3 linked regions of the Homo sapiens genome follow. The protein of the gene in region 1 interacts with the protein of each later gene in a biochemical or structural test. Each region holds a gene or a part of one and is shown in the gene's direction. Other genes may lie near its edges.

Evidence for each region.
Region 2: the proteins of TRIM55 (region 1) and ANKRD1 form a complex in vitro, tested with the Homo sapiens proteins (one study listed by BioGRID).
Region 3: the proteins of TRIM55 (region 1) and GFM1 form a complex in vitro, tested with the Homo sapiens proteins (one study listed by BioGRID).

The regions. Positions count from the first base shown.
Region 1 is NC_000008.11:66,118,529-66,130,128, forward strand, and holds the start of TRIM55 (tripartite motif-containing protein 55), read left to right. Parts: upstream 1-8,600; 5' UTR 8,601-8,740; coding exon 8,741-8,908; intron 8,909-9,770; exon of another isoform or gene 9,771-9,775; coding exon 9,776-9,948; intron 9,949-11,600. UniProt on the Homo sapiens protein: E3 ubiquitin ligase that plays an important role in regulating cardiac development and contractility, muscle growth, metabolism, and fiber-type differentiation.
Region 2 is NC_000010.11:90,915,960-90,927,483, reverse strand, and holds the start of ANKRD1 (ankyrin repeat domain-containing protein 1), read left to right. Parts: upstream 1-6,396; 5' UTR 6,397-6,456; coding exon 6,457-6,483; intron 6,484-7,135; coding exon 7,136-7,315; intron 7,316-8,215; coding exon 8,216-8,353; intron 8,354-8,511; coding exon 8,512-8,619; intron 8,620-9,653; coding exon 9,654-9,752; intron 9,753-11,214; coding exon 11,215-11,313; intron 11,314-11,524. UniProt on the Homo sapiens protein: May play an important role in endothelial cell activation. May act as a nuclear transcription factor that negatively regulates the expression of cardiac genes. Induction seems to be correlated with apoptotic cell death in hepatoma cells.
Region 3 is NC_000003.12:158,659,687-158,668,526, forward strand, and holds part of GFM1 (elongation factor G, mitochondrial), read left to right. Parts: intron 1-1,187; coding exon 1,188-1,289; intron 1,290-2,941; coding exon 2,942-2,998; intron 2,999-5,650; coding exon 5,651-5,788; intron 5,789-6,617; coding exon 6,618-6,700; intron 6,701-6,727; exon of another isoform or gene 6,728-6,959; coding exon of another isoform or gene 6,960-7,058; intron 7,059-7,325; coding exon of another isoform or gene 7,326-7,388; intron 7,389-8,840. Other genes in the region: LXN (latexin), read right to left, coding at 6,960-7,058, 7,326-7,388. UniProt on the Homo sapiens protein: Mitochondrial GTPase that catalyzes the GTP-dependent ribosomal translocation step during translation elongation.

The DNA.
Region 1 (11,600 bases):
GTATTTTGTAGATGTCATGGGTCAAGTCCTCAGTGCAAAGGGATGGCAAGAATCTTTGTATGGAAAGAGAGTTCTGGGTTATATTTTTTGGAATAACTTTTAAAGTTGTTACATGGAGGGAAATTTCTAAGCCAAATAATGGTTAGAAAGTGCTTTATTTGGGCCACACCCTGAGCTCTAGGATACCAAAGGAAATAACATTATGCCTTCTGTGGTCAGATGGGTTATATCTGGCAGGACTGATAACAGAGCCTGGTGCTTGGAACACCAGCTCATTGAAATCCCAGATGAAGTGTGGCCTTCTCTCCGCTGCTCATGAGTGGTGTTCTCACTAAAAAAGGGAGGGATGGGTGGATGGATGGTTGGATGGATGGATGGACAGGTGGATGCATGCATGCATGTGTGAATATTGCAAGAAAGAATTAACAGCCTCACTGGCTCAGTTTAAGAGGACCTGGTTTGCACAAGATTAAGTGTTGACCTTTGTTTTGGCATGGGATTAAAATAATTTTCAGATTATATTGGTGCTGGAGTTGACCTGAAAGTCTTGGTCCACTGGTGCCCTAGTGCTCCAGCCCAACTAAACTTCCTTCTTCAGCAATCACTGACTCTCTGCCTCCACATCCACATCATCTGATGTTCTTTCCCTGTTTTAATTCTTAGGCAGCCACCCTCTTTCTCACTTCCAGTGGGCACAAGAAAGCAAGAATACTTCCTTTCTACCTTAGAGGCTGAGCCAAGAGTAAGATCAGTCTTCCGACTCCTCTTGTTTTCTCTTTCATCAGGACTGCACTCTCTCTGCTCACTGTTTTGCTTCAAACCATATCGGTTTTTTATTTCCTTTTAGCTGTACTCTCCATCTAACCATAAGTTCTTTGTTCTGTTTGATGAACAAATGGCTCCTTAAACTAAGCCTGGATTATTTTCAAGTACCTGGACTTGCAATTACCTGCACCAAAGAGACAAAAGAGAACATGGGTAAGTGAAATGCCAAGGATGTTCTGGAATCTTCAGGATTCTTTGGGATTTTCTAATGTCTCCCGTTCTCAGAATGCTCTGACCTATTTTGACAGTTACAATGAAGAATCAGTGCTGCTCTTCTGACCATTCTGGGGCGAGTGGGGATTCACATCACTCTAGCCAGAGAGTACAAAATCACCAAAAGACGGTGACCCAGTTCTTGTTGGAGAGTCCTTCATATGCATTTGAATTTGCCCCCAATATTTTTTTATATCTCATGTTCTAGGGCTGGTTGTCTAGTATAATAACCACTATCCACATGTGGACATTTAAATATAAGTTTAAATTAATACAGTTTAAAATTTAGTTTCAGAGCTGCACTGTGCACATTCCAAGTACTCAAGAACCACAAGTGACTAGAGATTGGACACTACAGATATAGAACATTTCCATCATTAGCGGAAATTCTTATGGACAGTGCCCTTCTAAAGCATGGGTGTGGTGCAGCTTAGTGGGTGAGGTCATGGGCTCTGTGCTCAAAAGATGTGTCTCTCAGTGTGCATCACAGTTCAGCAGCCACGTGACTCAGGGCAACTACTTAACTTGCTCAGCCACAGTTGACTCAGTGGAGATAATAATACCTGAGACAGGGAGCTGTGACATGAAGTAATGGGTATTCAGTACATATTTATCATATTTGTTGTAGTGGTATAATAGTAAAAATAATTTTAGCATCCCTTTCCTCTCTTCCCTAGATGAAAAACACACTGAGCTCTTACTATATAATAAAGAACTTAGCTGGTCTTTGTCCCAAGTCCCTGAGTGGGAGCCTCTAAATCCTTAGAATTTCCCGAGTGACAGACATGCCTTTGTTATTCATCGTGGGCCCTGCTAGTTTATGCTAATGAGATAACTATGGACGGGGAAGGGGGGTTGGGGCTAGCCATGTCAGAAAGACCAACCATGAGATGAGAATCTTGGGGCTTTAAGCCATGTGATGTCAGCCCAACCTCCAGGGAGGCAAGGAGAAGCTGAAGATTGAGATCAGTCACAAAGCTAATGATTCCATCAATCATGCCTGCATAATGAAACCCCCATAAGAACTCTGGACACAGAAGCTCGGGTGACCTTCCCTGGTTAACAGCACTCTGTGTGCATTGTTACACATTCGTGTGCCAGGAGGGTGATGCATCCTGACTCCACTGGGAGAGGACATGGAAGTTCACATTTGGGACACCCTGCAACCTTGCCCTATGCATTTCTTCTTTTGGCCGGTCTTAATTTGTATTCTTTTTGGCTCTAATAAAACTGTAATCATAAATATAATGTTTTCCTGAGTTCTGTGAGTCATTCTACCAAACTAAGGGGGTAGTGGGAACCTCCAAATTTGTAGCCAGTTGGTCAGAAGTGCAGGACCTGGGAACCCCAGAGTTTGCTGTTGGTGTCTGAAGTCAGGACAGACCATGCCCTTTACTTGTGAAATTTGGCCTAACTCCAGGTAGGTCATGTCAGAATTCCATTGCAGATCTACATCTCTTTCCTGGGCCCTGGCCCCTGAAAAAGCCTGGTTCCATTTGGCCCGGCAGCTACAGGTTGAAAGAGGTCAAAAGCCTTCTCTTTTTGTTGTTACCCTTCAGCGTCACATCCACTGTTGGGTGCACACTCAGGTTCCTAGGGACCCATCTAATTTCCCCAGACATACCTGGGAGACTGGAAAACTGTTGAAAGAGGGGAAGGTGGTGGTGACTTTGCTTCAGTTTTTCAATGTGTCTTAACATACTCCAGCCCCAGGCTGGTGGGACTCAGAAACGAGGGACAACCAGGACTTCCAACCATGGCAGCTCCCTGTGTAATTGCTCCCGATCAGTTTCTAGCTTCTGTCCTGATGTGTGTGGTAAGAGTGGGGGTGGAAGTGGGGCAAGCAATGCAGTCCTTCTATATAAACCAAAATACCTTCAGGAGACTACACTTTGTTGAATTAAGTTTGACCTAAAGCTACCTTCATACATATTTTAGGTTTCACCTAAAGATTTCTTGTACATAGTGAACTGTCACCCAACTGGGTGTCTAAACAGACTGTAACGTGCTCTTGTAACAGGTCGCTGAGTCTCAGCCAATCCCAGGTGGTCAGCTGTTAAACTGGGTTCAAATAAGGCAAACGCTGAGCTGTTACCAATCCAGCTAACTCTGTGCCTCACTTCTGTTTTCTGTATATCACTTCCTTTTCTCAGTCCATAAATCTTATCCAACCGTAGGGCAGCCCTTGAATCACTGAATCTATTCTGGTTCTGAGGGCTGCCCCATTCATGAATCATCCTTTGTTCTATTAAATTTTGTTAATTTTAATTTGTCTAAATTTTTTCTTTTATCAGCTGGTTTTCATGTCCCTGCGCAGGCTCAGGTCCACTCCAAATCCCGGAGCCTGAAGATGACTTAAATTCTGATTCAAGTCCAGAATTTCCCCAACCTCCTGGACCCTGTGAATGATTTGGGAGTGAATAAAATGTTCTGATTTCTCCTTAGAGCAGAGCACTCCCTCCTGTGTCCCACTTACAGCTCACACACCCACCCCATGGATTGGTGTCTGAGAGCAGGGAGGAGCAAGGAATGGAGAAAAAAGAATGCAGAGAGGAAGGTGGTTATTATTCATGTTGGGAAGGGAAAATAAATCTTGGGGCCCCCAAATCACTAAGCTAAAGGGAAAAGTCAAGCTGGGAACTGTTTAGGGCCAACCTGCCTCTCATTCTATTCAAAGTCACCCCTCTGCTCACTGAGATAAATGCATAAATGGAGAGGCTAATCAGAAACTGAAAAGAATGCAACCATTTGTCTCTTATCTACCTAGGACCTGGAATCCCCCTCCCCGCTTCGAATCTTCCCGCCTTTGCTTCGAGCTGTCCCACATTTCCAGACCAAGCCAATGTTCATCTTGCATGTGTTGATTGATGTCTCATGTCTCCCTAGAATGTATAAAAACAAGCTGTGCTCTGATCACCTTGGGCACACGTCGTTAGAACCTCCTGAGGCCGTGTCACAGGCATGCATCCTCAACCTTGGCAAAATTAACTTTCTAAATTAACTGAGACCTGTCTCAGATTTTCGGGGTTCACAAGGTAAACCAAAAATATGATTCTAAGCCCCCCAACTCACTGATGGATGCCCCTTCTCGGCCAAGGTCATTCCAAAGTAAACCTAAAAAACTAGTTCAGGCCATTATGGGAAGATCACACATGACTCCTTCTAGCCTCTTCCTTTTAGAATTCAGGCTTAGCTGATCAGTATTAACACTAAAACAGAGATCTTAAGACTGAACAAACAGACTCTTTGTAGCAATAAGATACCAAATTCCAATCTGACTCTAGTATAGCATCGTATGACAGATAGCAGGCCCTGAAAGAAATTGAAGTATTTTACCCCAAAATATATTTCTTTGAAATATTTTGAAATGGCCCTGCAACACTGTCTCTTCTGAGGAAAATCTACATTCTATAGAGAATCCCTTCCTTTTGCAGGTCTTTTCCCTGATCCAGGAGAGATTTAACTAAGATTTAACTTCTATTCTCTCTGAAGCCTGCTACCCGGAAGCTTCTTCTGCACAAGGGCATTGGTCTTCACAACCCCTTATCTAAACCCAGACATATCTTACTATAAATTCCAGGTCCTTAGATAATATCTTAACTCTTTTAACCAACTGCCAATCAGAAAATCTTCAAATCTACCTATGACCTGGAAGCCCCCACTTTGAGCTGTCCCATCTTTCAGACCAAATTAATGTATATCCCCACATATATTGATTGATGTCTTATGTCTCCCTGAAACTTATAAAACTACACTGTAGCCTGACCACCTTGGGCACCTGTTCTCGGGACCTCCTGGGGCTGTCACAGGTCATGGTCCCCATATTTGGCTCAGAGTAAATCTTTTCAAATATTTTACAGAGTTTTACTCTTTTTCATTGACATTCATCAACTGGGCTCTTACTCCTGTGGGATTCATGCTGTTTTCCTGTGTAGCCTCCAGGGACAGTTCTAAGAAAAAGTAAAAGGCAGGGAGCAAGAAAGAACAGAGAGAAAAAAAAAGAGAGAGAAAGGAAGATAGAGATCAGCTCTGTAATCCCAGAGTTTTGGGAGGCCAAGGCAGGAGGATGGCTTGAAATCAGGAGTTCAAGACCAGCCTGGGCAACATAGCAAGACCCTTGTCTCTGCAAAAAATTTAAAAAATTAGCTGGGCATAGTGGTACACGCCTGTAGTACCAGCTACTCAGGAGGCTGAGGTGGGGGGATTGCTTGAGCCCAGGAATTTGAGGTTTCAGTGAGCTATGATTGCGCCACTGCACTCCAGTTTGGGCAACAGAGTGACCCTCTGTCTCTTAAAAGAAAATTCTGTTTCAGAGGTTTTTGTTTTTTTCTACAAATACTGCTAAATTAGGTTATGAACCCCACTCACTTATAGAGGGCAGAACTGAAATCCTCCTAGGTGAAGTCACTTTCCAAGACCACAAAGGGAGGTAGATGCAGAAGCTGGGAGAAAGCCTGACTGTCTCTGACTCACTCTGCAGCCTCTCACTACATCGTCGGTTACTCAGGCTCAGGCATCTGAGTCATCTGTGTGGATTCTACTTTCATAGCAGCCCCAGGGATCATTTCCTCCTTTCCTTCCCCACTGCCATGACCTGTGCCAGGGCTTCGCGACCTCTCACCTGGACTATTGGCAACAGCCTCTGATCTGGTTTTTAGCCAGCCACCTTCATGCTAATCTAACCCAATCATCGCTGAAAGATCAATCTAACCAACCACTGCTCTCACGGAAGTGTCCAGTGAGAAACTTTTAACGACTTCCTGCTGCTTAACTTATTAAGTGTTAAAAACTCTTTAGCACAGTATCCATGGCCAGCCAATGCTTGAGCGCGTGCCTGCACTCCAGCTCAAGCCACCGTGGCTCTGAGATCCCCTGCATGCCTGTGCATGCCCATGTTGCTGCTTCTGTGCCTTCTCTTGGAAAGCCCCAGCCATGCCCCACCTAACTACACGTCCATCCCTCTGAGATCCTCGGTGCAGCAGTTCAAACACTACCCCCACCCATGAAGCCCTTCTGATTCCTCTGACCCTGAAATGCTGTAGCTGTTGTGAAAGGAAAATAAATATTGGTATCCCAAAATCATTAAGCCAAAGGGAAAAGTCAAGCTGGGAACTGCGTCAGGCAAACCTGCCTCCCACGTTATTCCTAAATAAGATAGCTACAAAGATTTAAACGCTACATACCTCCCTTACAATTTGCACACTGGGAAATTCCTTATAGGCCCCAATATCTTTACCCTAAAACAGTTTTGTTGAATTTTACCCTGACAGTGTAAATTGACAGCTTATCTTCACAGGCATGGTACGAAGGACAGAACTCTAAGTCATCTCTCTGCTCACCTGAGACAAATGCATATCTGCTTTCTTCCTCTAATGTAAAAATGCAGACTCACTGAGCTAAAGGAAGACATAAATGACTATTATTCCTCTACCCACCGCCCAGCCCCAACATGTAAATTATGTATTTGGTGAAAGGCTGATCAAAGACTCAGAAGAATGCAACTGTTTGCCTCTTATCTACCCACAACTGAAATTTTTTTTCTCTTTCCCCAATATCCATTCTTTTCCCTTTAAATATTAAAGCCTTCGAAATCTTCTTTGGAGAAAGATGCAGGCCTGCCTCCTGGCACGCGCCCTTAACCTTGACAAAACAAACTTTCTCGATTGAGACCTGTCTCAGGTACTTTTTGGCTTGTACTCTTTATCACATTTTATTTTGTACTATGTTCTGTGTGTGCATGTCTCATCTCCACTCTTATACTGAGCTCCTTGAGGCCAATGACCTATGTCTTGTTCATCTTTCAATACCCAGAGCCTCACACAATGGAGACACACTACACATATCCAATGAATGTATTTTGAAGGAATGAATTCCTTCTAAAAGAAAAGACTCTGCTGCAATGTGCATGATTAGTCTAAGTGCTTTTACTTAGATAGCAAGGTCTTTTGCAGTAGAAACTTAATCTTTCCTAGAAAATATCCCACATATTGTACTCAGACCTCCCCTCCATAGCCCATGAATTGATAAACACAATTAACTGCCTAGGCTGGGTGAACCAAAGTAACTCAGTAAAAAAACTTTACCAGTTCCCGTCCTCCCTGTAGTTGCTAAATAAATATTGAAAGGACTAAGATAATTCTCTAAAGATCCCTGATATGCTTATGAATATATATAACTTATTATTAGTTAATAGAGCTTACTAGATTCTCAATAAGCTCTCCGTGCACACAGCACTAAGACCACACATAACTGACCTACACTTCACTGGTAATTTAATTCACACCAGGGATATGTTAACAAAATGTGTTTATTGCCCAAGGTTTTTAAAATGAAGGAGAAAGAAAGCCGAAATTTATCACATATAAACAGACTTGGATTTCTTTTTTATTTTTGATCTGATTTAAACATTTTTAAATACAATATGTATTGGTTAAACTGTTGCTTCACAAAATCCTGATGAATGTCAGAATCGATGTTTATGACTCAAGAGCAGACCAAGAATATCAGAAATGACCAGAGAAACTATGGTTTAACAAGTCACCTTGGAGGAAGGGGAAATGCAAGGGAGAATAGGTATTTTGGAGGCAGATGAAATGCAGATATGGAAGTAGGACTCCATTTATACTTCAGTTGTCAATGGCACTGGTAACTGTCCCCCAAGGGATGACAAAATAAAATAATAGATCTGCCACCTCCAGGTGCCTGCCAGTTACTACCTCATTACAGATTATTGTTGCAAACTATTATATAATTTAAGAATTTAAATAATCAGTAAAAGACTATCAAATTTTCTTTGTGTTTTTGGGTGTATGTAGGAGGTGGGGCAGTATAGGATGAAAGAGGGCCAAGGAAGAGGAAAGCAATGTGGAAGAGCAAACAGCATACTAGAGTTGTTTTATAATGTAACTTTTTTCTCAAATAATTAGATCATCCACTGGTTTTGAATTTTTATTTATGCATGTATTTATTTATTTATTAGGTGGATACCTTTATGGTGAAGGGATTTGAATTTAGCTTTTAAATTGGAATTTTTCAAAGACCACAACCCCAGCTGACAAAGATGAAATACTTAACATTAAGAAAGTCTTTTTGATGATTGCCTTTGTGAAGCCAGGATAACAATTTTCGAGACATGTTTTGTTCATTTTCACCTAAGAAGGTGCTATTAGGCTACTTTCCGTGACTCAATTCCTACACTCTCAAGACAGGGCTGGCATTAGTTACACAGACTCTGTGCTGCGTTCTGCCCCTTCCTGGAGAAGCCATCGCCAAGTTCTCAGTGAGTGCTCACAGAGGGCATGGTTCAGTGGCTAGGCATGCACATTTGCATTTGTTGTTGACAACTGTCAGCTTCGACCTCCTTCTCCTCACAACCCCGTCTAAATGGGGTTTGTAATCCTCCTTCCCACCCACTCTCTTCACTCCCTGGGGCAAGAATGTTGACTCCTGCTCTCCGTCACCTGTCAGGATCCATCCTCCTGTCACTGGCTTATATGGACACGTCAGCCCACCGTCACGTGACCGCAGGCTGCTAAAAACAGCTCCAGCACCCACTCCAAACCAGGGCCTGAAACAATGTCCTCCACCGAGAGAAACGTAAAGGACACTTGATCACACAATCCCTGGAATAATATCCAGGAAACACTTGCTGGAGCCACTCGCAGCACCCTTCCCTGGCAGCACACTTGGGGACAGCGAGGAGATGAGCGCATCTCTGAATTACAAATCTTTTTCCAAAGAGCAGCAGACCATGGATAACTTAGAGAAGCAACTCATCTGTCCCATCTGCTTAGAGATGTTCACGAAACCTGTGGTGATTCTCCCTTGTCAGCACAACCTGTGTAGGAAATGTGCCAGTGATATTTTCCAGGTAGGTTTGTTTGGAATTTGGTTGAGGGGAGGGGGTGGAAAAGATTCCCTCCTCTTGGAATCAAGTGCTTAACATTGAGGTGAAATCCTTTAAAAAACTTTATAAGGTTGCCGGGCGCTTTGGCTCACGCCTGTAGTCCCAGCACTTTGGGAGGCTGAGGCCAGTGGATCACCTGAGGTCAGGCCTTCGAGACCAGGCTGGCCAACATGGCAAAACCCCATCTCCACTAAAAATACAAAAAAAAAAAAATTAGCTGGGCATGGTGGCGGGCACCTATAATCTCAGGTACTTGGGAGGCTGAGGCAGGAGAATTGCTTGAACCCAGGAGGCGGACATTGCAGCGAGCGGAGATCGTGCCATTGCCCTCCGGCCTGGGCAACAGAGCAAGACTCTGTCTCAAAAAAAGAAAAACAAACAAACAAAAAAACTTTATAAAGTTGCATTTACTTTCAAGAAAAACACGTTTCTTTTAATGATTTGGTTTGTGTCCTCTTTACTCCCAAATCTAGTTTTATTTTAATACTAAGAATCATATTTTTTTTTAAGTCAAACCATTTAATGTGTTTCAAAACTATAAATGAGTAACTGCTGAAGACATGAGTGTGGAGTTTCTGGCTGGAACTTTTGGTTCTGAAAGTGGTGGACGGAAAAGCACCTTACGTGGACAATGGTATATTCGCAGATGACTGTGGATAAGGTCTGACCCTGTGTTTCAGGACCACTTGCTGAGAAAGCCCTGAGGGATGATCTTATGGCAAGCTTAAAGTAGAAGTTCATGTTGTTTGTAGTAGCAGAGAGTGAAAATAAGTCTCAGAGAAGCTGCTTGTGGCATTACCCAATTCCTTTTTTCTTACTTGGCAAGAACAGGCCTCTAACCCGTATTTGCCCACAAGAGGAGGTACCACCATGGCATCAGGGGGCCGATTCCGCTGCCCATCCTGTAGACATGAAGTGGTTTTGGATAGACATGGGGTATATGGACTTCAGAGGAACCTGCTGGTGGAAAATATCATTGACATCTACAAGCAGGAGTCCACCAGGTAACACTCTTCCACTCTTCCATGTGTCAAGCCCATCTGAAACTTGTTTTTGTTTGTTTGTTTTAATGGGTTGCTACGCTGAATGCTTGTTTATCAATCACAGACTGTTTTATGGAAAAATGGTTTTCCAAGTCAGTCCTTCCCAGTGAGACTGAGAGTTGCTCACAGCAGGAGAGAGGGGAGTTGGTGCCCATGCTTTTGTATCAATTTAAGAATGAAGTGACTCATTAACACCAATCCATTCCAGATGGTGATGCTGAAAGAGACATACTGCTGTCCCCCTCCACCTTAAAGCCTGGTATTACATCCATTTTACACATTTTGCACTTCACAGGCACTTTGTAGCTCCAGATCCCTACAAAGCAAAGAAAAAAAAATCTAGTAAATACTTAATAGAAAATTAATAGAAATGGCATCTTCCGAAGTAGCCCAGTTCCTAGTTCAGACAGTCTTGCCTTAAAATTGTTTGGATGATAATAAAAACAAAATCCTCTAACATAGGTTGTCACTGTATTTACTCTAAGGGAAGTCACAAAGCAAGGCAAAACCCTGGCCTTTAGGGACTTAAACTTCAGAGCCATGAGGAAAAAAAAGGGTGAAATTCAGGTTATGTTTCCCTATTCCTTATACTGTATTTACTGCATAGTCAGCATTCACTTGTTGATTGTGAATAACATCGTGATAGCATTATATATCTATCCATTCATTTTTAAAAAATAACAAAAAAGGCTTCTTATTCACCAAACCACATTGGCTATAGAATTCCTTTCCTAGACACAATGCTGCGGGAAGCTTATTCCTAGAAGGCACGGTGTGAAGAGCCCCTTTTCAATTGTGTGCAGGTCAGTCCAGTCCACAAAGCTTGATAGCAATATTGAGACCATCTAGAAATGGCCTCATTGTGATTCCATTAGGGGACACGTATTTATGGAACATCTGCAGAGCTCTAAGAGGCTTGTGCTCTTGGAAGGAAAGCTGTTCTATAAATCTAACATAATTATTATAATTATTATAGCTATTAATTTCCGCTAAAGATCCAAAACTAAATTAGACAGTACCAGGATCTAGATGGGTTTGGGGAAGAATTGCTGATGACATATTGCAGAGATTGCAGCTGGCTGTTTCCCTTGCTTCCAAAGTCTCTTGACAAGAACAAAAGTACTATTGCTGTTGCTGTTACTTTACAGATTTGATCTCATTGTATTTCACTACTTTAAAATACAAATACACACTTGTCTCTTAAAAACTTAACCAGCCAATTAAAAACCAATTAATTATGAGATTGATGCAAAAGTAATTGCGATTTTTGCAATTACTTTTCATGGCCAAAACAGCAATTACTTTGCCACCAACCTAATATTAAGAGAGTTTATATAACAAGAGTTTCAGTGCTAGTCCAGTGTCTTGCACAGAATAGTTGCTCCATAAATCCCAGCTGATTAAGCAATACCACAAATATTCTTACGTAACAAGTTTCAGAGCTAGTACAGTGCTTTGCACAGAATAGTTGCCCCATAAATCCCAGCTGATTAAGCAACACCACAAATATTCTTTCATGTTCTATTTATTGCAATAAATTTATGTTTTGTTACTTGTCACAGTGGGAACTTGAGACATGAAAAAATAGCAATACTTGTTATGAAATCCAGAGA
Region 2 (11,524 bases), on another chromosome or scaffold:
CCCAGAATGTTGATTGTTAGAGGCTCTGCCTTCCTAATGTTCTGGGAACCAGTGTAGGGGGCCTAAACAAGAACCCATTATTTGGGGAAATAAGAATGTAATAGAAAGTCACTGAGATCCCTTCCTGGACACTTATCACTACCTTTTCTATGGGGACAGATGTCAGCCTAGGCAAGAGCTTGGGCAGGGATTCTCAGAAGGGGAAGAAAGAGGATGAGGCCTTATAAAAATCTCTGCGGTCTTAGAAGGTTTGAAGAGGCATAATCAAAATTACCACTACTTTTATTTCATCTTGACCCCAAGTTGATCTTCTTGAAATTTCTATCCATGTAACAGAGAGTGTGAAATTTTTATGTTTATCAAGTGGGAGAATGTCTTAAAGATAGTGGAAATATCCTGGGCTAGTGAAAGCTTTATGGACCGTTTCCTCTTTTAGAGGCATTGGAGAATCAACTTCACTGTCCGCACGTGATGCTGCAGTTATGAATGTTTATTTCTACCTTTTGATTCAGTGACTTTGAGACCTCAGTAAAACTTTAGGGCCCTAGAAATCATTTTGTTCTCAGCTCTCCTTTTATAACTTCAGGATTTGAGATGGTAAGAGGTGAGAGGACTTGCTCCAGTGAACACAGGGCAAAGCCAGGATTTAGAGGTAAGCCTCCTGATTCTTCATCCCATCCCCACCAGACCCACAAAACTACTGTCTCGCCTCACTCTTCTTGATTTGTGGCAGAAGAAGCATGTTATATTGTCTGTAGTTTTTGTTAAATACTTCAGTAAAACTGTGTGAATGCCGTGAGGGCAGAGTCGTGTGTCTCTTGAGAGCATAAGTATATCTCAGCTCTAGAAAAATGCCTGACACAAAGTAGAGCTAAATAAATATTAAATGAGTAGGCCAGGCACAGTGGCTCATGCCTGTGATCCCAGCACTTTGGGAGGTCAAGGCGGGAGGATCACTTGAGGCCAGGAGTTCAAGACCAGCCTGGCCAACATGGCAAAACCACATCTCTACCAAAAATACAAAAATTAGCTGGGCATGGTGGCATGCACCTGTAGTCCCAGCTGCTCAGGAGGCTGAGGCAAGAGAATTGCTTGAACCCGTGAGACAGAGGTTGCAGTGAGCCAAGATCGTGCCACCGTACTCCAGCCTGGACAACAGAGCAAGCCTCTGTCTCAAAACAATAAAATAAAATAAAATAAAATAAAATAAAATAAAATAAAATAAAAAATAAATGAGTAAATTGTATGTGTGTGTTTCCCATGGTCTTAGCATAGGCAAGAGTCTTCAACAATCAAAATTCTGAGACCAGAATAACAATAGCTTGACTGTCCACTACAACTTGGAGAAAATACACGTGTATTTAGATACATATTCATTTAATTCTACACCCTCGAGCAGTATTCTCAATGCTGGGAGGAAATTAGAATCAACTGGAAAACTTTAAAAAATACCAATTCCTTGGATCTTTGAGCAGAGATTTGGATTTCATGTGCCTGAGCTGAAGCCTGGGCATCAGCATTTTTTTAGAAGCTTCACAGAGGATTCTAAGATGCACCCAGCTTAGAGAATCACTGCTTGAAGAAATGTTAGTTCACACCTGAGAAGCCCTGACTCTGCGATTACAACTGTTGGGGTTAGTTAGCATTTGAAAGACACTAATGAGCTGCCCCCACTCCAGTGGAGGTAATCCCAAGTACTTTACCTATCTTTACCTTTGATAGTATTGACAGATTAATGGTTAATTAGCATGAGAAATGTTACCAATTATTTCTCATTGAAAGGAGAATTTGAAATATGTGGTTTGGTTAGAAAAGAATATGAGCCCTGCTGGGTCTCAGGTAAATATTTATTTAGCCCCACTATGTGTCAGGCACTTTTCTATGCAGTTGGAGTCCTAGGCTTATAGTGAGTGCTAGGACTCCATCCTATCTTGTGTTAGGCCATATGTGGAGGAGTCTGTAATCACCTTGAGTGGACTAGAAAATTAGCTGAAATATGCTGCCAGAATGTGGTTGTGGTTTCATTTGCTTCAAGTGAAACTTTTTCTTTTATTTTTTTTTAAATAAAAAAACATAGAGCCAGGATCTCGCTATGTTGTCTAGGCTGGTCTCGAACTCCTAGGGTCAAGTGATCCTCCTGCCTTGGCCTCGCAAAGTGCTGAGGTTACAGGCATGAGCCACCATGCCTAGTCAAGCGAATCTTTTGTGCTGGACACTGTCCAAGGGCCTAAATGGACAAAGGGCTGGGCTTCATGAGTTTACTGAATAGTGCATGTGGCCCTTTGTGCCTGTTGGCTGGTGTGAGTTCATATGTGTGGCAGAATTTGCACTGAGATACCTTATTTACTGTAACAAGGCACCTGCTGTAAGGTGTGGAGGTGAGACCTACAGCCTTCACCTACCTCTAACGTCAGGAGGCCACCGATATCCGTAAAAAGTAACCTACTGTGGGCAGCCCAACTGTGTTAGGGCAGTTTGTGCCCTTTCTATCCAGAGTCCTGGGCAGAAGGACTTTAGTCTTGATTCTGCCTTTCGAGAGGCAAGGAAGGCAGGTGCCACAATCCTGCTGAAAATGTTTCCAGTACTTTTCTGCTTTTCAAATACAGGTTATCCCATTCCTGGCAGGGGAGGGGAAACAACATTAAACCTTATTTGCTTCACTTTTATGACCTTCCTTTGGCATTTTCAAACACGTAACTGAGCCATGGCTTGCTGGTCAGGCTAAGTCAGCCACTTCTCTGGGCCAAGGAAGGTGCGTAACAGCTGGGACTGGGAAGGCTATTAAAAGGGATGGCAAAATGAGCAATTGTAAGTACAACAGTGGAACAAGGAGGTTTCCAAGTCAGAATCTGGCTACAGTCCTTGGAGCACTTCCTTTTAGTATCAAGTTGGGTGTTCTAAGGACAAGGAGTGTTAATAACAATAAAATTTTATGTGCTATAAAATGCCTTTTTAGAAAATAAAAATGCCCATTTTAAAAAAACAGCCTACATGTCCACAAATGAGAAAGTGGTTAAATAAGAAATGGTAGGTCCGTGCATGGAAATTCATGCAGTTGTTTCTAATAGCAAGATAGATTTGTTTGTGCAGATAGGAGACAATCTGTAAGACACGGTTACTGAGCGAAAAATAATCAAGTATCAAATCGACAGTAAGATCTGAACTAAATAACATTCTCTGTGCTATTTTTAACAATAATGTGTCTATTATATAGTTAAAATATAAGAATGAAAAGTTGGAGTAGAAGTAGAACGTCTGGAACTTCATATTTTATACAGAAAGATAAAACTGCCCTTGGACTTGGAGCTGAGCTATGGCACATGGATCTGGGTGGGGTCCAAGCGCCTCTTTTAATCCCTAGGTGACAGCAGTAATTGCTTTAGGTGCTACTTCTCTGCTTCTCACTTTCTCCAGCTATAACCATGGTCCTAATTCTAGTCACATGTCATTTCACCCATGGAAATGCATAAATCCTGAGGGGAGTGGGAAAAGGCTCATGGGGTGACACTGGAGAAGCTCAGGGATGCTTCCTTTACTCTTTCTGGTTGGAGATGGGTGATGCCAAGTTGCTTTATGATTGTAGAACCAACTAGGACCTTTATTGTTTTAATTCATCTTAGTAAGGATAGATTATGTCCAGATTGAGGCTATGATAAAGCCAAATACACAAATATAAGAATTTACACCACTGGGTGAACTTTTATGGGAAGGATGCTTCTGAAAAACAAATGACAGAAAACTCTCCGCCAGGGGAATTTTTTTCTCAATTTTGATGAATAAGAACGATTTGAAAATACAATGGTTGTTGTTTTTATCTTTTTAGAGAGCTAAAGGTGCCTAGAATCTCTTTTCAAAAAGCAGATTCTCTCATGTTTTTTTTCTTTATTTGTTGTCATATTCTTTTTACATCTTCTGACCACTTATCCTCAAGTTGTACCTCTCATGTTTTATAATGACAAGCTGGATCAACATGGGAAAAGGTTGAACTGGCAGTGATTTCACCAGCCCTGACATCCTTGCATCCACCAGCGTGCTCCTTTAAGTTCAGCCCATTCCATCAACTCATCTTCAAGTGTCATCCTCTGCAAAGTTTTCTTCAAGACTTCCTGGAGCCTCTCTATAGAATCAGCTAGGTTTCAAGGGATAATTAAATGCCTGGAGAAAGAAAAGGGCTTGGTAAGCCTCCCTGCCCACTTTCACTTGCATTCTTTGAGGTGATTGAAACAGTAAGGAGCCATTTAATCAGTTTTGGTTGCATCCTGAGTGGGTCTAGGTGAGACTTGCCCTAGGAAATCTTTTGGGCTCAATGATTGTCTGCTTCTGTTGGATGGAATCAGGACTCTTCAACCTAGCATTCACCAACTAGCTGTGCATCTGCAGCAAGTTACTTAATGTTTCTTTGCCTCAGCATCCTCTCTGTAAAATGAGAGCATTAGTCTTGCTCCAACTTCGAGGGCATGGACAGCTCTGGGATTTCATATCCAAGACCCTTAAACATCCCACAGTCCTTCCCCCAAACACTTCTCCTCCTAATACCTCCCTCAGTTTGGGTCAGGCCTGGAACAAAAAGGCATACGAAATGGTAGAAAAAGTGTCCATGACTACTTCTGACTTAGATGAAGAGACCAATGAAAATAGTAATGACTCTGTTTGCTTCAGCAGGACATATACTAAAATAGGAGCTATACAAAGAAGATTAGCATGGACTCTGTGCAAGAATGACACACAAATTTGTGAAACATTCCATATATTAAAAATAAATAAATAATAAAGAGAAAAGGAAAAAATTAAAAAGAAAATAGTGATAGCTGTGTCCATCTCAAAGAAAAGCCCAGGAGATTTCCTTTAATTAACCCCCTTTTAAGATAGAATATTAGGAGACCGGAACATATGATACAGGAGGTACTGGGAGGGTCCCTCTTTGTCAATGTTTTGTCTTGGGGTGGGGAGTCGATGTCTTCTCAAAGTTTCAGAAACACCATCCACTGACTGAGCATTCAAGGGGGAAGAGGAGAATGGCAGCCACATTTGTTGATTGGGTGAGTTTGGGGAGAAATAGACACACAAAGGTCAAACATAACTTCCTAATTAACACTTCCCTCCATTCACAATTCCCTTCTCCCATTCTTCTCTCCTTTCTTTTACTGAAAAAAACCCAGTTTTTCCTGAAACTATAAAAAGACCCCAGTATTTTTACATAATTTACACCTCAAAGATTAGAAACCAGAAATAGAGACCTTTTTCAACCCTTCCGGAAGCAAAGTGCATTATCCCTCCAGCCACGTGTCTCAAATCTTGATGCATCAGAATCATCTGGGTGCTTTGAAATTCAAGATGATTCCTACGAGTTACCATAAATCAACTCAGAATTCCCTGGAGTGGGGCCCAGGGATCTGTATTTCTGACAAGCTCCCACAGGTGATTCCTTTCCCCACAGCATTTGAGAACTTCAGCTCAATGACCTAATCAGAGTCCTGCCATTGCTAATAACTGGTCTCATTTTTTTCATATATATATATAGTATTTTTGGTAGAGATGGGATTTTGCCATGTTGCCCAGGCTAGTATTGAACTCCTAAGCTAAGCAATCTTCCTGTCTCTGCCTCCCAAAATGTTGGGATTACAGGTGTAAGCCACTGCACCCGGCTGATAGCTGGTTTCATTTACTCTATTTCTTGACCACTCTGATCCATTTTGAAGTAAAAATGCTCCAATTATTATGCTGTTTTAGAACACGGTAAGCATGTCATGTGCTAATTATGGCCAGTGACATCATAAAAGAAAAGTGCATTACTGAATGCTTTCAATTTCTTATAATGATGGTAAGGTGGCATGTCATGGGGCCTATTTAGCCCCAGACATCACTCCAAAGAATTCCAAACAGATATAGACAAGTGCCTTTAGGGCCCAGATCCCTTCCCCTCAGGCTGTTTACCCAGGGAATAGGATGTCCTGGGACAAGTTTCCCCTAAGTGAAGTGTTGATAAGTCTGCTTATCAGAAAGATATTACTGGGGGTGTGATATGTAGGGCATCTACATTTTCTTGATAGGTAGTCATATGAAAGCTGACAAAGAAAAAAAGGGCAGTGATGTGGTGCAATGTCAACAGACAGCTGTCCCCTGACTCTTGACAAATAGGATGACTTGCATTGCTGAGCGATGTGATCACCACCAAAGGAATGGCCCTCTCACATTTCTTCCTGATTCACATATTCAGCAGGGTTAGCTTGTCCTCCCCTCCCTCTTCAGCTTCCCAGACACTGAGTCTGGAATGAAAATTCACCTGCCTCTGAGTTGGCTCCTAATGGGGGTGGGAGTGTTACTTCGGTTCCCAGGTTGGAAGATTATCTCACCCGGCCCCAGCTATATAAGCTGACCGGTGTGGAGGGGCCCAGCAGGGCCAACTCCAGGGATTCCTTCCACGACAGAAAAACATACAAGACTCCTTCAGCCAACATGATGGTACTGAAAGTAGAGGAACTGGTATGTAAGATGCATTAATTTTATAAAATGAAAACTGGTTCATCTTGGTTTTTATTTGAAAATTGAAATGCCCTTTGCTTTCAGGTGTAATGCAAGGGAACTCTGAAAATGTCATATATGGAAAAAGGTTGATGTGATGAAACAAGTGAAATTGGAAAAAAAAAATGGAGCTACCAGTAATGAATTCTCTGCATATTTCCTATTTAATATCTTCTCCTTTGGTTTTATTACTACAGTGTGGAATCACGTGTAGTTATCAAAATGTCTTAGGGAAGAAGTGTTATTGAAAGAATGTAAGCCCGGAAACTTTACAATAAGGCGAAACTCATCAAAAGTACCTAAAGTTGAGTTTTAATTAAGCAGAGAAGGTTTTTGATTTTCCTAAAAGAAATGTGATTAAGCAGATTAAAAGTAGATTTAATCTGTCAACCTAACCCAAGCTTTGATTTAACCAAGAGAGTAGGACAAGCATCTGAAGGTAATTCTGGGACAATTGTAGCAGTGTGCATCGCAGCTTGAGATCTGAGAGTGCACTGCTCAAAGGTGGCTGTTCCCAGGGGAGAAGGACCAAGAGCCTCCTGCGGCATTGTCTGTGAAGAATGACCCAGGACGAGGCTGCTGCTTCTGACGCTGCCATCTTCTTCCCTCATAGGTCACTGGAAAGAAGAATGGCAATGGGGAGGCAGGGGAATTCCTTCCTGAGGATTTCAGAGATGGAGAGTATGAAGCTGCTGTTACTTTAGAGAAGCAGGAGGATCTGAAGACACTTCTAGCCCACCCTGTGACCCTGGGGGAGCAACAGTGGAAAAGCGAGAAACAACGAGAGGCAGAGGTGAGAGCCATCTGTGGAATCCACTAGTAGGATGTTGGGGCTGGGGTAGGGAATGGAAATGTCAGGGAAGGAGAAGAGAGAAACAAACCCAATCATTAAGATGTCTCTTTACCAGATTCTAACCCGTAAAGAGGCAACTTGTATGGAACAGGTTTTGGGAAATAACTCTTTGACAAGACTATGACCTCTGAATTCTGAATCAATGAATAAATGTGCTGTGACCATGTTTTGATTGAAAGATACACATGTCCAGTGAATTCCTGATGTTACACACCATGTAGTTAATCCCAAGCAACGGAGATCTCTTTTTCTCAATAACATGGTCTGTGGTCCATAGATCATTGTTTAACTGTCTGCTATCTGTGTTGACACAATCTGTGTTTCTGGGTGAATTTTCCTTAATTACTAACACAGATAAAATTTGCTTTAGTTAGCTGTGGTCCCTGGACAGTCTGTTTTAGAAGGCTCTGCTTAGTGAAAGAGAATGACATTGATATTTCAGAGCTTAACATTTATTGTTAGATTCTTTTTATCATGCTCAAAAATTAAACCAAGTTTTGAGCATAATTTTAAAAATCCTTTAAAAATCTAAGACTTGCTTATGGCATTAATTACAAAGTCATCACTTAGAGACCAGATCGTGTCCTCAATTGGTCAAGGGCTGATTCTACAAGCAACAGAAGTAAAGATGATGGCAATTAGCTGAAAATTAGACTCCCAGATAAATATCTGAATAAGAAATCCCTAAAATGAAGTCAAAGATTTATATAATTTTTAAAAAATGTTTTTGCTCAAACTGTTCACATGTTTATCTCAGACCTTGCAGATTTAGTTTAGACACAACCAGAATGCTTGTCAGTAGAACTCACCATATTTTTGAAATACGAATTTCTTTTTTAGCTCAAAAAGAAAAAACTAGAACAAAGATCAAAGCTTGAAAATTTAGAAGACCTTGAAATAATCATTCAACTGAAGAAAAGGAAAAAATACAGGAAAACTAAAGTTCCAGTTGTAAAGGAACCAGAACCTGAAATCATTGTAAGGGCTTTTTTTTTGGTTTCCAGTAATACATGTCCAGTGTTGTGCTACAGGGGAGCAAATATCTGTGGAGGGTTTGATTGAATGCTGGCAAGCTCACGGTAACTCTCATGCTATATATATATATATATATATATATTTATTTATTTTGGCTTTAGACGGAACCTGTGGATGTGCCTACGTTTCTGAAGGCTGCTCTGGAGAATAAACTGCCAGTAGTAGAAAAATTCTTGTCAGACAAGAACAATCCAGATGTTTGTGATGAGGTAAGACTCATGCAAAGCACTGCAAAATCCAGCTCATTAATTTTATGTTTCTTATGCTTTACTCCAGTCTTGCTAATATAGTGCCAAAGTCCTTCCACCTGAAACAGTTTCCCCAGCTGTTGCTGTGTATGCCAGGAGCCTAATAGGAGAGTTCAGTGGTCCAAAAAATAAATAGATATTAGATCAGTGATACGGATTGCATTGTTTTTTGCACTCATATACATCTGGCTGATTTTTCAGTTTTTCTTTAACTTCTTAGATTCTTGGGATAAGACTTTTAATGTGGGCCAAAAAGTCACCTTTAGAGATATATTATTAGCATCATCTTTGATTAAAACCAAGCACGTCAACACTAGATAAGAAATCTGGAGATTGGAGTTCAGGGGCCAGTTGTACCACTACTTGGCTATTTGGTTTTGAGCAGCTAATTTGCATCCTCTGGGCTGTGGTTTCCTTATCTGTAAACATGGGGCATTGGAGTGAAATAACGCCTAAAGTTGTTCCAGCTCTAATAGTTCATTAGCCCATTCAAATAAAGCCAATTTATCAGAAATCACTAATCTTTTTGTATTCTTTCCCCCATGAAGTGAAATTGGGGACCGCTTCTGAAGTTGAACTAAAAACATGTCTCCCATTCTCCTAAAAATGAATGGAAACTTTTTGATAGTCTAGCAACAGTCCCAGATGCAAGAAAGCTGTCTGATCTGCATGGTAATGCTACATGAACAAGGAAGGTGCAAGATAGAAGAAACGGAGATGTCAGCATTTAGATAGTTTTGAGCCTTTAAGTTCACACTCCTCAACGTAGGCCTTTGAGCCCTTGGAAATGTATATTGGAGGAAGCTCAAATATTAGTTGCAGGATAATTGTTCTGATTCTGCAATTTTAGTTAACTTTGACATTTCTATTCATAAAGAAGCACTTGAGTTTCTATCAGTTAGGTCATCAGAATCTCCAGCTTCATAGCTCTTAAAAGGGTTTACACACATTTTTATATTTATTGCTATCTCTGTTTAAAATCTCTGTTCTGATAGTATAAACGGACAGCTCTTCATAGAGCATGCTTGGAAGGACATTTGGCAATTGTGGAGAAGTTAATGGAAGCTGGAGCCCAGATCGAATTCCGTGATATGGTAAATATATTTCTTTGCTTGGGAATGAGCCAAAAGAAGTAGACTATATGAAGCTCCGGAAAACCTCCAATGCAAAACCGAGCTGATTGGATTGAAAATTGATCTGAGAGAACTAGGCAAAAGCTCATTTCTCCAAATAAAGGAAAGTTGGGAGATGAGAGTAGGTCATGTGAAAATATTTTCCATACATACTGAAAATAGAGGAATATTTCAGGGAAAAGAAGGAAGTGAAAGCTGTTAAACTGAATTCAATATCCTCATCAGCGAGTTAGTCATTCATTTTCGACACTTGCCTTTCAACAGCCTTGTCCCTCCATTGTTCACAGGGCAGCCTGCTTATGGTTGGCTGCCAGCAACATATACGAATTCTCTAGCTGCACACTTTATATGATAGATGCCAATTGCTACCAATGAGATTTGGGGCTAGACTGCATATGAAATGAATTGCATCTATGGAAAGTAGCTGCTATTCAGACCTCAATAATTCAATCACTGTGATTTCTACGAAGACCAGTATGCAGCATAATTTATGAACTGAAGATTGAGCTGGGAAAATTCTTTATGTATTTAAATGCAGCTCATTTTGACTTTATAGCAAAGCGGCAACGGGATATCAAAGAAATCCAAGGGACTTGGCCAAAATTGAATCCAAAACATAAACACATTGAAAAAAAAATCAAGAAACAAAATATGAAGTTTGCATGGAAACTAAAAATCATGAGTGTGGGATTAAGGCCAGGGGCATACCAACCACATAGATCAGTGAGGAGAGGGTCTCCTAGGGGTAACTATACACGTTACAACTGTAGACACAAGTGACTACAGTTGAGGTACAGAGGCTGTGCTAGCAAAAATGAGCAGAAAACCCACAGAAGTAGAGAAAGAGCGACAGGGACCCTAGATGAGGTGTCAGATCCAGATTAAAATATTTTGGAAGGGACTACTTTTATTCTGCCAAAATTTTTAAATACATGTGTTTAGAACTTTTGTGTACATTTGACAAAAGAAGTTAGAAGTTCCAGGCAGAGGGGAGTTTGACTGTGTATTCTGCCTCTTATTAGTTGTGTTTCCTTGGGCTAGAAACTTGAACTTTTTGGAACCTGGTTTTTCTTATCTGCAAAATGTGCATAGCAACACCTACCTCAAAATGTTGCTGGAAGAATCAAGGTGTCTAAAGTGTAGCACCATGTTGGCATGAGAAATGTCTCAATAAGTGGCCATTCTTATTCTTTTAAAACATTATTAGATTTATTAAGAGCCTCCTAATAAGACACACATATGCACACACACACACACACACATGTAATTTAGCTAACACATTTGGTAAGAACCTTCGACTCCAGTTAGAATTGTCAATCTAGATGGGGACAACTCATTATTTTCACGGATGCCCTAGCAACCAGGTTCTAATTCCCCAGACCACATTCTCCTTCACATTGTCGGGTCTTCCCTCCCGGTATAGCTTGAATCCACAGCCATCCACTGGGCAAGCCGTGGAGGAAACCTGGATGTTTTAAAATTGTTGCTGAATAAAGGAGCAAAAATTAGCGCCCGAGATAAGGTATTCCTTCTTCTCCTTCTCCCTTCATTCACCCCCTCCCCCTCCCTGTCCCCCATCCTTCTCCACTTCTCCCACTCTTCCCCCTCCCCCTCCTCCTTCTCCCCCACCCGCCCTTCCCTCCTCCCCCACCCCTCCATCTCCTAACCTCGCCTCTCCATTAAAGTCATCTGGAGGCCCATGCTGTGTGCAGGCACCCTAGTGACCACTTCTC
Region 3 (8,840 bases), on another chromosome or scaffold:
ATACTGAGTGCCTGAATTTGTCCCCTACCCCCACCCTCTCCCAATCCATCTATATATTCCTGGAGAAATTTATCAGTTGAAGCAAAATCTTAACGAATTTTTTGGTAGCCATAACTTTTGTTTCTTCTAGAAGAGGAATTGTCAGTCTGAAAACCCGACAGCGTTGCTGTTTTGTGAGATAGGCAGCAGGGGGCAGGCTAAGTGATTGTCATAGCTGTTTCATGGACCAGAAGCTGGAAGATTTGTACAGCTGTGTCACCATTAAAGAAAGACATGCTTACTCACAGCCACAGCTGTTGTGAATGAACTGTCAATGTAAAACGACAAAAACTAGGAAGCTTGGAGGCACCAATGCTTTGTTCTTAGATTTCCTGTGTTTTCTTGACTGCTTGCATCTGTGAGAAATTAAAATTATTTTTAGTACAGTGGGCTCCATTCTCCTACCTTTGTTTTCAAAACTTCCTTTACAGGTTTCCTGTAAAGGAAGAGTATGTATGACAGAGTAGATCTCTGTCATACACAATCTCATTGTCTAACTGCGGCAACATATATAGTACATGCCTTTTTTTTTTTTTTTGAGATGGAGTTTTGCTCTTGTCTCCCAGGCTGGAGTGCAGTGGCGCGATCTCGGCTCACTGCAACCTCCGCCTCCTGGGTTCAAGCGACTCTGCTGCCTCAGCCTCCCTTGTAGCTGGGATTACAGGCACCCACCACCATCCCTGGCTAATTTTTTGTATTTTCAGTAGAGACAGGGTTTCACCATGTTGGACAGGCTGGTCTTGAACTCCTGACCTCAGGTGATCCACTCGCCTCGGCCTCCCAAAGTGCTGTGATTACAGGCATGAGACACCATGCCCCGCCAGTACATGCCTTTTAATTCCATAGAAATAACTTTAGAACCTTGAGGCACTGTGTTGTTAGTACTGCAGCTCCTTCAAGTAATGAGTTTTCTGTTTAAAGTAAAATCTTGTCTATTGATATATGGTTTAAATGAAGGCCTTTTAAAAATACGTCTTAGCATGGTTGATTATTGTATTGGTTCTAGCTAATTCACTATAGAATTCAAGCAGAGAGATTCTGCCACGCTTTTTTATATACAATGTGTGTACTGTACAGTTTACTTTTTAGTTACCACATCTTTATTTGTATTACTTGCAAATATAATTTTGTGTTATTTGTTTTTTTAGGATGTTGAGGAAGTATATGCCGGAGACATCTGTGCATTGTTTGGCATTGACTGTGCTAGTGGAGACACATTCACAGACAAAGCCAACAGCGGCCTTTCTATGGTAAGCCATTTAATTTCAAAGCTACTTATCACTAGAATTTTAAAAGTCTGTGTTTTTATGTAGTGCATTTAATACTTCAGAAAAACAACCACAGAAGTTTTCGTTGAGTACCACAGTCATCAAGTTAGTTGTGGCTCTTTGAATGTTGGTTATAGCTCTTTGAATGTCAATTAGACAAGTGCTCTGTAAGCTAACTTACCTGGTTTTTCATAGTAAAAAGGAAAACTTGGAGGATCCACAATCCTCCCAAGTTTAGCAAGGAGGAAATATCTCCACCAGATGGTACCTGGACAGTGTGGCTCTGATTCCTCCACCCTGAGACCTGCTTCCACACTTGGGGTGCATTTCTAATTGTTACCACTAACATCAAGCTAGTTTCAGTGGAGTGCTACTTCCTTATTAACTCAGTAGCCAGAAAGTATACTGTTCCCTCAATCCCTTTTGAGACCAGACTGTAACATTTAGACTAGACTTGGGATAACAGAACATAACCAGGCTCAGAAGGCAATAGGCAATATGCAACTACAGAGTCTGACTTATATAAATAGCCTGCCCTTTGGAACTCAGAAGTCCCTTTTTATCATTGAGGGATTCTGAGGGAAGAGCATGCACAGGTAGCTCCTGCCTTTGAATTCCCTTCACTCACTCACCTTTTTTGCCTCTGTAGGAGAGCAAACTCTCTTACATTATGACCATCTGTTTATGAGAGTGATCTCTTTTATGAATTCAGTAAAGAAAGAGTATGATGAGTACATAGGGTGACAGGTAATTTGCAGTGGGTCATTTACATAAGTACTGACCCAACTCTAACAGAATAGCACTGTAATACTTCCTGCTATCTAATGATGAATTCATGATTTTATAGTTTAGTTTTTTTATCTGTAGTATCCTCTAATGTGTATATTATTACCTGTTGATTTAAGACACTACAAAAAAAACATAAATCTATACAATTTTTGTTTGAGATCTAGATAAAAGGAATGTTTTCTAAGTATTATTGATAAGGCCTTCTCTAAGTACTGGTCATTAGCAACATGAAGTGATTGGTAGTTGTGGGAAGTGCTTACCAAGGCATTGAAACAAACAGGCCTTGGTTAGAGTCTCACCTTTGCCCTATACTACCTACTGGCCCTTAGCCAATTTGTTTTACCTTATTTCCAAGCCTTTAGTGACTGCATTCGTAAAATGGGGATAATACCTGCTTCTCAGAGTTGTAATTCATTAAATGAGGTGTCATGGGTATGAAGAATTTGGTGCCCTTTCTCTGTTTGCCTTATCAGTAATTGTATTATATTTTGATTAAATAAAATAACTTAGAAGATTGCAACAGCCACCAAGCAATAAGAATTTCACATCTCAGTATTTGGATTAATTGTAGTGATTATGTTAAACAGGGCAATAAATACATTCATTAATTTTATTTTGGGAAGGAGGAACCTATATAAGTAGATAGCTTTATTTATTTATTAATATGTTGTATTAATGTACTTATTTAATGCAAAACAGATCAAGATATATGTTGTCTAGCCTAAAGACATAGGCTACTATTTATCCTTTGTTCTGTTGTAAAGTGGCACATTAAAATTAATCTATCCCTGACCCATATGGGTCTGTTTTTTAATTCTTCTGTTTTCTTTTAAAAAATATTTTAGGAGTCAATTCATGTTCCTGATCCTGTCATTTCAATAGCAATGAAGCCTTCTAACAAGGTAGGAGTTTGATTTAAAGCTCAGTATATCACAATTAAAACTTGAGCTCTTTTTCATCTATCTCTACAATGCACTTGATATCTTGTAATAACCAGCAGTCTTATGGTCTCTATTTCCTCTGTTGGTATTGAGATCTTCTTTTTAAATTTACCAGTCTGTTTCTAATGATAACTCCTCAGTATATTTGAAGAAATGGATGGTATTAAAATATTCACCTGACTGTACTTTATAACTCTTTACTATATTGTTGGCTTCAGAGTGTTAAGTGTAACTTCCCGGATTCAGATCATACACAATTGGAAAAGGGGAATCGGGCACTTCTCCTAAGTTGTAGTAAAACCCCACTATAAAGTACTTTAGAATGTTGAACTGATTAATTGACTCATGGGTTATAAAATAGCTCTAGGTTTTCTGGTAGTTATGAGGTAAATGTCTGAGTATTGCATGGAAAGCCTGTAAATAAGACTTTTTTCCACTTTGAAATATTTTTTAAGATAATTTTATACTTTATAGTTTTATAATTGGGTTTGATGTAATTTAGCTTTTAATAAATCCAAAATTGCATGATTAGGTTTTGCATTTTCATTCTTTGCCATGGGAATTAGTCTGATCTCAAACCATAACTTTTTAGTTCTTAAGTTGCCTTGGCATTCATAACAATCATGTTAATGTGGTATATTGAAATTCACTTATTCATACATTGAGTGAACTTTTTATGATTTGTTATACAGAACTTATTACAAAACATACTCTGATGAATTGTCACGTGTGATAATATCACTAACAGCTGCTACTACTACATCTATTTTGAGGAACCTTGGGATTTTCCAGACCTTTTCTCAATATAGAAAAGAGAAAATTGAGGTGGCAGGAAATATTAAATTTCTCCATTTTCTCAGGAATTTGAGGAAAGGTGAACCTTACATCTTAACCTCAGTAGGATGCCATAGTTTATTCCAAGTACATTGTTAAAATTGCTTGCTTTTCTCTTTGGAAGTATGCAAGGTTAGAACTTATGCTTATGTATTATGCTTCTTCATTCCTAAATTCAGAGTTTATTTAAGGCATTTAACTGTTGATAATTTACAATAAGGAGGGAAATCAATGCTTCAATATCCAGAAGGTTTTTTGTTGTTTTGGGGTTGTGTATGCATTAAAAAGTTTAAAGATGGCTGCTTGCTGGAGTAAGTTAATTTAAATCGAATAATGAAGTCTCCATGAGTCTCAATAGTGGGGGCAGGCATGATGTTTCTAATTTGAGAGTATCTGGCTTGTGCAGAAAAAAGGCAAAAGACCTAGAAAGACTAAACTGGGATTCAGTCCCAGCTTTGCCATGCAATAGCTGTGTGGCCTTGAACAAATCACTTAACCTCTCTGTACCTCATTTCCTCACCTGTAAAATGTGGATAATTCTGCCTTGCAGCATTGTGGTTGGGATTTGAGAAAACATAGGCAAAACACATACCACAGCTCCAGGTATGTGGTAAATGATAGCTGTTAATATTGGTTGTACTGGGCATGTTAGTTTTCTATTGCTGACTTAAGAAGTTACCACAAACGTAGTGGCTTAAAACAACACAAATATATACTTTTATAGTTCTGTGGATCATAGGCTGATAGCTGTTCTCAAAGGGCTAAATTAATCAAGATATTGGTAATGTTGTTTTCCTTTCTGGAGGCTCTATGGGAGAATTTCTCTCCTTCTTACTCAGGTTATTGGCAGTATTCAATTCCTTGTGGTTGTAGGATGGGGGTTCCCCATTTCTTTGAAGACTGTTACCTGAGGGCTGTTCCTAGCTTCTAGAGGCTACCCACCTTCCTTGGCTTGTGGCCCCCTGCCTCCATCTTCAGTGCCGTCAACAGCTGGTTAAGTCCCTTTCTTGCTTCAGATATCTCCTGCCACTTCTTCCTTCATGGAATCCCTCTGACCCCCCCTTCTAGCTTCCTCCTCCATGTTTGAAAGGCACACATGATTATGTTGTATCCACCTAGATAATTGATAACAATCTCCCCATCTCCAGGTCTGTAACCTTAGTTACATTTGCAAAGTCCCCTTTACTATGTAAGGCAGCGTATTGTCAGATTTGGGAGGATTAGGGTATCTTTGGAGGGCCATTAATCTGCTTACCACGCGGGATTACATGGCATCTAAGGAGAAAAAGGGTACATCATACCACATCCAAGCAGATTGTTTTGAAAGGGACAAGTCTCATCGTGGTATTTGCCTATTTGTTGGTCTTAAGTATCCTGCTTGGATCTACAGTAGTGTCTTGGTAAACATGCTGATTCCTTTGATTATGTATAGGATTTCTAAAATGTAACACAGATTCCAATTTCTGCTTTATGGGCAATTTTCACAAAAGGACAGTGTGTCAATGTAAGAGGACAGGGCATAGAGTTAAGTCTTGGACTCTTGTTTTCTATCTTGGTGTGGAAAGAAAATTCTGTTCAGTGAGCTATTCCCTGCTGTCTTGGCTGTGTGGTATCCAAGCTCACATTGTTTTTAAAAATGGTGTGGAGTAGAACTAGATATGTATCATTTTTATTTCTTAACTGCTGATGTATTTTATTTCATTCAGTAAAGTTTTTTCTAAAATCCCATTGCTTATCATGCTCAGTAAAACATATAGTGACTTTCTTCTTCTTTTAAAGAACGATCTGGAAAAATTTTCAAAAGGTATTGGCAGGTTTACAAGAGAAGATCCCACATTTAAAGTATACTTTGACACTGAGAACAAAGAGACAGTTATATCTGGAATGGGAGAATTACACCTGGAAATCTATGCTCAGGTAATGAATAATAAGGAAGTTAAGTTGAAATCAATTTATTACTGTCTGTTTCATTAAAAGTCAATAATTCTCAATCTAATGTCTGTAACTAACTCTGGTTCTTCATGCGTCACTCTGGTTTGTATCCAGATGTGGTCTACTGCTTCCTCTACTATGTGTTACAAAATAATTATTTTCGATCTCTAAATCTTTTTATTTGTAAAACGTTCTGGACTCCTAGAATCAAGGCTCAGGGGATTTGCAACAAGAATATCTGTCCATCCCCAGGTCATGGGTAACTGGGTCAAGTAAATCCTGGTCCAAGCCTTAGGGAGACAACCTGCGGTTGTACCAACTTTTCAGGCCATTTCTTCTCAAGTCATTACTTGAAGATCATTATAATATAGATAAAAGGAAGGGAAGATGGGGCCTATACCTTCCCAGGAAAGGTCTTGTATGTATTGATATATAAGTAAAAACCAAAGATATGTGATTAGAAATTTTGGTGAGATCTTATCTTTGAAGTTGAGATAGAAAATCCTGACAACAGATTTATATATTATTCCAGTGAATATGTAATAATATTCAACAATGGTGACGTTTTAGTGGTTAGATTAATTGGAGGTAAATATAAATTAATCAATGTAACTTAGAATTCATTTATATAAAATCTGTAAAAGCAGTTTGTATTAAGTATCACATACCTAATCCTTATAAGATACTAAAATGATTTAAGATTTGTTTATCTATTATATTTAAGTGAATGCTACTAAGATATATAAGATGCTTAGGAGGTTTTCTTTCGGTTTATTTTTTTAAATTTAAATAATATTTTCCCCACTCTTTTTAGAGGCTGGAAAGAGAGTATGGCTGTCCTTGTATCACAGGAAAGCCAAAAGTTGCCTTTCGAGAGACCATTACTGCCCCTGTCCCGTAAGTATGCAACGTAATTAAACATTATGAGGCTGAAATTGAAGCTTTTTATTTTGGATATACATACCACTATTACTGTTTTAAAGACATTTTTATGTAGTGATACTTTGTATTATGGACTCTATAAAGTTCTATACTGTAATCAAGACATTTATATAAAGTGACACTTTGGGATTATTTGGCCTCATAAGCTAGATGCCAGTGAAATTGGCATACACATCAATAGACATGTTTACACTTCCAGTGTTAGGGTTTTTGTTTATTCCAGTTGTACTTCCTTTGGCAGACGGCTATTATGTTTTACTTTAGTGCCGTATTGTGGATGCCAGAGAACTTGCATTTGCCAGGGAATAATCTCCTGCAAGTGAAGAAAATTAATGCCATGATAAAATTCAGAAAACATTTAGGAAAACGTAGTTGGGTTTATGTTTTGTTAGAGATAAAACAGTCTTCACAAAGAATAGTACTTTTGTTAAATTGCTGCAATTATAATATACTTAAATCTGGTGCCTATCTGGATTTACATGAATTCTGATTTAGAGTCAAAATTAATAAAGCATACTGTGGCTATACAAGGAGTCTCAGTTTTCAGAATGGCATCAAATAAAGGTAAATTATACTTTACCTGAGATGCTATATTATGAAGTAGAATGGTGTAGTCTAATTCAATAAAGTCATCATTTCTTTGCTATGACAAAAAATAAAAACGTGTTGTTTAAAACTTAATATCTTTGGCAAAAATTACATTTAATTTTGAAAATCATCTTTGATTAGATGAATATAATATTTCCATTTAGGTAAAAATAAAAATTGAATGTCATAATTTCAATTTAATGTGACAAAATCTATTCTCTTACACTAAATAAAGTGTTCTTTCAAGATGCATTTTAAAATCATGATCTTATATTTGTTCCCCAAGAAATGTTTACCTGTTTTTAGTTTCCAAGTTGTGGTGGCTACTTAAGAGAATTAGCAAGTGTAGCTTGTTATTTAAGAATGCTCTGTGTTTCCATTGTACAGAAAAGCATAATTTATGGGATAAGCTATAGCAATGGGTGTTTACATTGAAAGAATCCAATTTTATAACAGAAATTCTCTTTTTGAAAACTGAAAATAAGGCCGAGCACAGTGGCTCACACCTATAATCCGAGCACTTTGCGGGGCTGAGGTAGGCAACTTGCCTGAGCCTAGGAGTTCAAGACCAGTCTGGGCAACACAGTGAAACCATGTCTCTATGAGAATAAACAAAAAATTAGCCAGGCATGCCTGTGTGTGCCTGTACTCCCAGCCACCTGGGAGGCTGAGGTGGGAGGACCGCCTGAGCCTGGGAGATTGAGGCTGCAGCGAGCCATGATCACACTAATGCACTCCAGCCTGGGCAACAGAGTGAAACCCTGTCTCAAAAACAGGCAAACAAACAAAAAAACCAGAACACCTGAGAATAGTAAAATGTAGTGAGTGTAGTTGTGTGATTGTGTAATTAAAGCTTTTTTCTGTACTGTACAGTAGAGGGAAAAAACAGATAGTTTCAGTATGGCATGACTATAGTAATTTGAACACAAAACTTAGATTGCTAAGGGAAATAATCTGTATTAAGCTGAGCACAAAAGCTAAATGTTGGATTATAACTCAAGACTTCACTCTTCTGAAAGCACAGCTTTGCTTGTGACTGCCATAAAAAGTGGCCCTGAGGATCTCTATAGAGCAGATTAAAGGTGAGGAGAGTCATTACAATTGTCCCTTAGTATCCATGGAGGATTGGTTCCAAGATTCCCCTCAGATACCAAAATGCACGGATGCCCAAGTCTCTGACATAAAACAGTGTAGTATTTGCGTATAACCTATGCATACCTTCTCATATACTTTAAATCATCTCTAGATTACTTATAATACCAAATACAATCTAAATGTTATATAAATAGTTGTTATATTACTTAGGGAATCATGACGAGAAAAAAATCTGTGCATGTTCAGTACAGATGCTACCATCCATTTTTTTCCCCCAAATATTTTTGATTCTCGGTTGTTTGTATCCATAGATGCAGAACCCATGGAGAGGCCTGACTGTATATTGTACACCTGGGATTCTGTCTTGCTGCTACTAATAAAACTCTCTCAACCTTTTTGTTCTAGAAGAGGG